2 linked regions of the Homo sapiens genome follow. The protein of the gene in region 1 interacts with the protein of each later gene in a pairwise test. Each region holds a gene or a part of one and is shown in the gene's direction. Other genes may lie near its edges. The genes, in order: MBNL3 and DAB1.

Evidence for each region.
Region 2: the proteins of MBNL3 (region 1) and DAB1 interact in binary tests that used the Homo sapiens proteins (3 or more experiments, as listed by UniProt).

The regions. Positions count from the first base shown.
Region 1 is NC_000023.11:132,387,770-132,391,787, reverse strand, and holds part of MBNL3 (muscleblind-like protein 3), read left to right. Parts: intron 1-704; coding exon 705-941; intron 942-4,018. UniProt on the Homo sapiens protein: Mediates pre-mRNA alternative splicing regulation. Acts either as activator or repressor of splicing on specific pre-mRNA targets. Inhibits cardiac troponin-T (TNNT2) pre-mRNA exon inclusion but induces insulin receptor (IR) pre-mRNA exon inclusion in muscle.
Region 2 is NC_000001.11:57,421,961-57,425,560, reverse strand, and holds the start of DAB1 (disabled homolog 1), read left to right. Parts: upstream 1-1,500; 5' UTR 1,501-1,631; intron 1,632-2,448; exon of another isoform or gene 2,449-2,544; intron 2,545-3,600. UniProt on the Homo sapiens protein: Signaling adapter of the reelin-mediated signaling pathway, which regulates the migration and differentiation of postmitotic neurons during brain development.

The DNA.
Region 1 (4,018 bases):
ATAACTCTCTACGATTGCAGAATGTAAAGCTATATGAACACAGAAGGTAAATTAGTCTCATAGTGCCTCAACTTTTTTCTCCATTTTGAGAGTGATGTGCTAGGCAGTAAATAACCCCGATGCCTAAGAAAAGAAAATCTGAAAGAAATTTCAAACAGCTTTTTGATTTATTGAAGTCCTTCATTCTTCTATTGTTATTCTTTGTACATTGAAATAACTAGTCTTTCCTTACAAAGTCAGCTCCATTTGCAGCCGCTTAAATGCCTAGTAATGTATTGTAATATAATCTGATTGTACATATAACTCAGTTATGGTTCACAAGTTGACTTTGGAAAACCAGTGCATTATGGTGTGATAAAGACTCATCTTGGACTTAAAAAAACACTAATTATGCTTAAGGCTGTGTATTAACTGGAGAATTAAAACTGGTTTTCAGTAATACTTTTTTAAACATTTTTATTTCAATGTAAGGACAACCTCCTTTTGGGGAGAATAGAATTTTTTTCTGGGAATAGAAATTCTGTCTGTTTATATCTCATAGTGAATATGGCTTTACATTATTCTTTATCTTTTTAGATTTGTTCACACATAATATATTCAATGTATATATAATTACTGTTACATTCACTAGCAAAATAAATAAAAGCCAGTCAGCTTCCAGTCATCAGTGTGATGCGTGTGTATGTGCATGTGTGTGTTCTAAGGTTTGCCGAGAATTTCAGCGTGGAAATTGTACCCGTGGGGAGAATGATTGCCGCTATGCTCACCCTACTGATGCTTCCATGATTGAAGCGAGTGATAATACTGTGACAATCTGCATGGATTACATCAAAGGTCGATGCTCGCGGGAGAAATGCAAGTACTTTCATCCTCCTGCACACTTGCAAGCCAGACTCAAGGCAGCTCATCATCAGATGAACCATTCAGCTGCCTCTGCCATGGTAAGAAAAGGCCTGCACTTGTGGCCTGTTTCAGAGTAAATGCTTTGTATATTCCTCAATTTGTCTAATATCCTGTAACCATACTCATGGATGGTCATGAGAGGACCTTAATATGAACAGTCAAGGTTATAAGCTGGAAAAGAAAGAACCTATTTATTCTACTTTATTTACTAAGATTTTCTAAAGATAATTATTTAAAAGCCTTACTAATGCTTTTAACCTACTGTGCTCTTTCTCCCATTTTCAGAGTAAGGGTAAATTATATAATTTAAACAGTAAGTTATTTTTGAGTGCTTTTATAGTTTCACTACCCTCAATATCCTAGAGAGGCAGAAAGTTGCCTCTGCTCTGTGAGCCACTTTCATGGGCCCTTTGCTACTAACATCCTTAATGCCTTTCAAAAACACAGCACTTAAAAGATAGGGTATTAAGTAGGTTGTAATTTCCTAAAGGTTAAGGCCACTTTTCCTCTCTAGAGGCATAGTATCAAGGACAGCAGCCTGCTTAGTCTGGGGGGAAATTTCTACGTGGTTGGGAGCAGAGGCCTGACTTTGGTTTTTTTTTTTTTTTTTTTTTTTTTTGTTGTTGTTGTTGTTTTGTTTTGTTTTGTTTTGTGGGGGTGGTTGTGTGTTTTTTGTTGTTGTTGTTTGTTTTGAGATGGAGTCTCACTCTGTTGCCCAGGCTAGGGTGCAGTGGCGTGATCTCAGCTCACTGTAACCTCCGCCTCCCAGGTTCAAGCAATTCTCTAGCCTTAGCCTCCTGAGTAGCTGGGACTAGAGGCGTGCACCACTGCTTCTGGCTAATTTTTGTAGTTTTTATAGAGGCCGGGTTTCACCATGTTGGCCAGGCTGGTCTTGAACTTCTGATCTCAGGTGATCCTCCTGCCTCAACCTCCCAAAGTGCTGGGATTACAGGCATGAGCTACCGTGCGCAGCCCAGAGTCCTGACTTTTAAGTTGCTGTAGAAAGCCAGTTTTGGGGGAACAGTTAGTGCTGCTTAGTAATACTGAAAGGTAGGAAGCAGGAAAAATATTTGTGTAACACTGCAGTGTGATCACTGAGAACCAGGAATTCTCGTGACTTAAGTTTGCCACAGCTGTCCGTTGTTTTGATGTGCTGCTTGCTATGTCTTTCTTTTTCTCCCTGGACCTTTCCTTGTGTAATAAGGCATAACAGCCCCAGTAAAGGACAAAACCCACAGGAAACCTCATGTTCCCTGGGTGTGGAAAAAGCACTGACATGACCCTGAAGCCCAGGAGATGCACTGTGAGCTAAATCTCCTCACAAACATTCATAGTTTGGACTCCCATGACAGAGACTTTGCCTATTCACAACAGAGAGACACTTATTTTCAAACATCCCTATTAAGAAGGTTTTCCTCATACCGAGTTGAAATTTATCTTGCTGCAACTGGAACTTCACAAAAGAAGTCAGTCCCTATTCCAAGTGAGAGTGACTCTCATGTCTCCTGTCTAAGCCAAATACTGCAAATTGCTCCCTTTTCCTGGTAGTTTATGGTTTCAAGGACACAGTACCATTTTTGGACTGGCTCCACTTTTTGTCAGAACTGAACTCATTACATCGTGAAGGATCTGAGCACCAAAGTAGAACAAACTTACTTTCTCCCTTGATCTGAACAACATAATCTGTTAATGAATGTTAAAAAAGACTTTACCAAATTCTTTTTGTCTTAAATGCTTTTGAAGGGGTAATTATAAGCTATGAAAATAGCTTCATATGCATCTGTCCATTTCTGATTATTTGAGTGTGTTTGATAGAATGCATAGGTTACAAGTCAGCCTCAAATTTCCACGTAGAGAGCTAAATATTATATCATAGGCCTTCAATTGTTACTTGTGAATATCAATATAAAATTCCCTTTTAAGTAACTGATCACAGCAGGGTCTTAGCAGTGAGATCAAGTTGGCTCATAAGAATTTGATAGAGGTAAGATTAAATAAAGGAGGGCTTCATGAAGAAATTCAAGCTTTTTATATTTTTAAGGATTCATAGTGGACATGCTTTATAAAAGAGACATTTTTACCTTGTTCATGTATATAGCTCAGGTTGAGTTCACAGAAAGCAGCTTGTATTTAAAAAAAAAAAGAGAGAGACATAAAGGGTTGATACTTAGTTCATCCACAGTCTCACACCTCTTCGGCAGGTTTATGAGTTTAATAGTACAATCACCACCCAATTGGAACTGGGCACTGACCCATCAGGATAAACCCCAGCCATAAATAAACAAGCAGTACTACCTTACCAGCGTCTACCTGTTGAATGTTCATCTAGGTTTCACCCCAATTTGTAGTTTACTAGGGAACATAACTGGTTCTGATGATCATACCATGCTGCCAACTTTCAAGAGAGAGAAGGGGACACTCCCCGTTTATACCAAAGGGAAATCTTTTTAACAACCAGATAAGTAGGTCTTCTGTCTTAGTTAAAATGTTCAGCAAAACCATTTTCTCCCAATGGTAATAAAAGGCATTCGAAATGATAGATTTTGTTTTATGGTTTATGATTTTAGTACTGACCTTTGCCATCTGGTCTGCTGGGATAAATTTGGAAATTTTATATCTCTAAAGCTACTCAGTTTATTTTATCTCACTCTTCTAGCATGCTTTTCTTTATTTAGGTGAAATGAAAAGCAGATCTGTCACAGTGTGTGCACTGACAGTAGAGTTCCCAAAAGAAAATAGAGATACCTTGAGACCTTTGTTATCCACAGGAACGAGGTCATGGCATTACCCTTTTGGACACATGGTAGGATAGTTACTCAACACAAGCATTCCTGTTTCCTTAAGAATTTGGAGCATACCTAATTGTTGTTGCTGGGACATGTTTTTTAAGTAACGTGCAATTTGCTGAGAAAAAAAAAATGTAAAGTAATGTTAAACTTCTCCAAAGAATCTGATCCAGGGGCAAGTTTCACGGAGTATTATAAGCACAGTGGGATTTTGAAAGAACTGTAGACATGAAAGGATGGTTTAAAAATGCTAATAGGTTTTAGAATTAAACCTTACAAGAACTTAACAAAGCAAATGGTACATACCGAAATGGACAGCAAGCCTCTAT
Region 2 (3,600 bases), on another chromosome or scaffold:
ATGGAATAAGTTTAATGGGTCGTGAATTTTGTGGAGAAAGGGAGGGTCTCTTGATGACTTTGTATGTACCAGCCCTGGACCTACTGGCTCCACAAGGAGTGCATTAGGCTAAATATTTTTAGCCCATTGACTCTGGAGGTAACAACCCTAAATGCTTCATTAAATTTTCATGGGTGAGTGTCAGAAGCTACGAGAAAAAAAAACACCCCAAAACAGAAAAGCACAAATCCATCACATTATCTTTGTTATTATACAGCTGGAAGACAGGAGTGTAGCCCCAAAAAGAGTAACGGTAAACTTTTTAAGGAAGGGTTGCCTGCCTCTTGCTTTCCTTTTCTGCACCTGGGTCCAACAGGGTGGTTTGTGTGCTGTGCGAATCTACATATTATGCACTTGATTTGATTCACCAGGCTCCTCTCTTCTCCTGCATTTCAGGCCTCTGGAGACAGGTATGCCACACAACAGGAATTTTCTGGAGTTGAATCTAGTCTCAAGGTGGAAGAATTTTCAGAATGACCCAATATTTTCTGCGACTTGGTGTTTCTAGGATCTTTGTGAGCTAGGACCCTAAGCAAGGAGCAACTGACTGTGTACTCGCTGGAGCCGCCTCCCGCACAGCTTCGAATCGGAGGATTGTTTACTCCCAGTCATTCTAAGAGCCGAGTAGGGGAGTCGCGGGGAGTAAGCCGGAGTTAACCGTGGTCTGCGTGCTCTCAGGGGCACGGGTCTCTCCTGAGGACTGACGGAAACTTGACACGTGCCAGCCTTCTCCCTCCCAACTTGCCGAACTTTGCCTGGGAAACCTCAGTCAAAACAGGAGCCGCCGAACCTGCACTGGCGGCTGGGAGCGAGCGCCCCCTCCTGCCAAGGGGCGTGGGGGCAACATGCCCTCGCGGAGACTCCCCTCGTGGTTTCGCCCTTCCTGGCACTCCATATATTTGGGTATGCATATGTTTTCGAGGCTTGGATAAAAGGGTAGATCTTAGAGAAAAATGAGAGAGGCCAGGCGGAGCTGCGTCCAGTGGTGGTGATGGGGGAGAAAACACTGGATACTTTGTGACAACCCCCCTCCCTTACCCTCTCCACGCTGGCGCGGCTGGGGCGGGGACCCCTCGCTCTCGGCTCGTCTCTCCCCCTTCCACGCTGGGATGGAGAGAGAGTGCAGGGGCTCCAGAGGCGCGACTGCAAGCCGCGGCGCCCCCGCTCGCTCGCTCGCTCGCTCGCTCGTTCTTCCACCTCCTCGTCGCCACCGCCACTCGGCTAAGCTCTCGGAGCGCGCTCCGGCTGCGCAGAGAGCGCCCCGGAGGGAGCCGCGAGGCCGGGGCGAGGGGCTCACGGCCCGGCGGCGGCGGCCGGGGAGCTAGCAGGTGAGCGGTGCCGCGGGGCGCCGGGCGGGCGCGGGGGGCGGCGGGGCGGGGGGCCGCGGGAGGAGGCGGGTCCGCGCGGGTGGCGGTCTCCTCCCCCTACTCTGACGCGGGGCCGGTGGCTCCCGGGGAGGATGGACCCAGCTCGGCGCTCGCCCGGGCTTCCCCGGGCTGCAGAGCGCGCCTGAGTGCCGCCGCCCGCCGGGCATGGGGAGCCGCTTCCTGGGCGGCTGCGGCAGCGGAGGAGGATGCTCTGGGCTAGGCGAGGTGAGGCGCGGCGGGGGCGCGCGGCAACCCTTGAGTTCAGCGCCGCAGGTGCCCCGCGAGGACAGGGCGCCGGGGAGCCAGGAGGCTTCGCTGGAGCCCCGGGGCGCGGAGGAGGGCTCCTGGGACGCGCCACTCAGCAGTTTGGCTAGGGGTGCTGGGAGGATGGCGACTGCAGCAGTTTTTCGCCTTCTCCCTCCACTTGCTGGGAGGAAAAGGGCGACTTCTCTTTCTCTGTCCTGCCCCCCATCCCCGCGCCCCTGTCTCCCTACTTCCGACCACGCGCGATCCTGTCTCCAGACTTGTCCACCCCTGACACGCGTCTCTCTCCAAGACCCCCTGCGCCCTCTTTCCTCCTGCGGTCCTGGCTATATCGGACCTCGAGCCTGCCTTCTCCCGCTGTCCTGGGCTCCCGAAACTCCCTCCCTCCCTCGCTGGTGGCCAGACCCTTTTCCTCATTCGGCCGAACCCCGTTCTCACTTCCCTACTCCTCCGTAGCGCTGAGATTCGGCTTCGACCTCTCGAAAAACCGACTCTATCCCAGTAATCCCAGCCCTTTCGCGGGCACCGTGAGAACTGGATCCCGCGTTCCTCGGACCCCGGCCTTTCTTCGGATCCTCTGTGGACTCTGTTCTCTGCCGCTCGTCCCCCTCCATCCACTCCCCAGCACCCCCTCCCCCCACGCCCAGCTAGTCGCCTCCCCAGCCCGCCCCTCTTCCTTCTCTCTGCTCCAGACTCGACGCTCTGACTTGGATGCAGAGAGCTCAGTTTTTTTTTCTACCAAGGAAACTTTAAATCTCTGTGGTTCGGCTCATAAAGCAGGCACACAAGAGGGTGTCAACCGCCGAGAGAACCCAGAGGCAGGGAGTCCGAGATGGGGGGAGGTCGTGTCGCGGCGTCTGAAAGGGGCCACTGGGTGAGTGTACAAAGTAAATTTCAAAACCAGGGTGGCTGCTGCAGCCAGGACCCTGCCTCCGCTGGCTGCGTCCCGAGGAGTATTATTGTGACCCCTGGTGGGAGGGCGCATCTTTTCTCTGCACTTTTTAAGGCGCTTTTTCTTTTCTCTGTTTTTGTTTTTTGGTGGTGCTGGTGGGCCTGATGGGGGGCAGTGGGCACAAGGGATCGCTGCCTGGAGAGGCGGACGCCACTTGGCTGCTCCCAGACCCGCCAGACTGTGTACGTTTCACTCCGTGTGAACTACCCCCAACCCCCAACTGCATCGCACAAATCCTCATTGTTGGGGGTCTGCTGGGGCACTTCCGCTTAGGCTGGGAGAGTCTGAAGGAATGGCGTGGGGGTGGGGAGGCCGGGGGCGCTTGGCTACCGCTCCGCTCTTGGCGGCGGGCGGAGTGGAGAGCGCCGCGACGCGGGCATCTGTGCGCTCCGGTGTGTATGTGTCGCCGAGTCTGGGGTGCGCGCCCGCGTGGGTCGGTGTCTGCGTGTGCGTTTGGATGTCGGCGCACGCCTGTGTTTAGCTCCATTAGAAAGAGGGGCGATGTAGGGCTTGCGGTAGCGAGAGCGCCTTTCTCCGCCTGGGAGCTGGACGGGGGCGAGCCCGGGGGCGAGCCCTCCTGCGAGCTGGATGCTCCAGTGCAGCTCCTAGCCAGCCGGCGGGGACCGGGGCGAGAATCCGCGCCGTCGTTTCTTCCTCCTTCCTGCTCCCTTCCTGCTGGCCGGTTAAATACACTTTAACAGTGTTGATAGTTTTGAATAAAGGCTGTGTGGGGGTTCCACTACACTTTACAACACTTAACGTTTTCAAGTAATCATATCAATTAAATTAAAGGTGGCTTACGTTCAGAACCGCCTAATTATCCAGTTCACGTTGGTACATTTATGTGCCAATTATAGGTCTTTGGGAAATCCATAAAATTACAAACCATCCCCACCCCTTGAATTAGCACCCATTGTTTTTGTGATCTCCGTGATGAGTGATTCTGGATGGCACCGGAACTGCGCAGGCACTAAGATA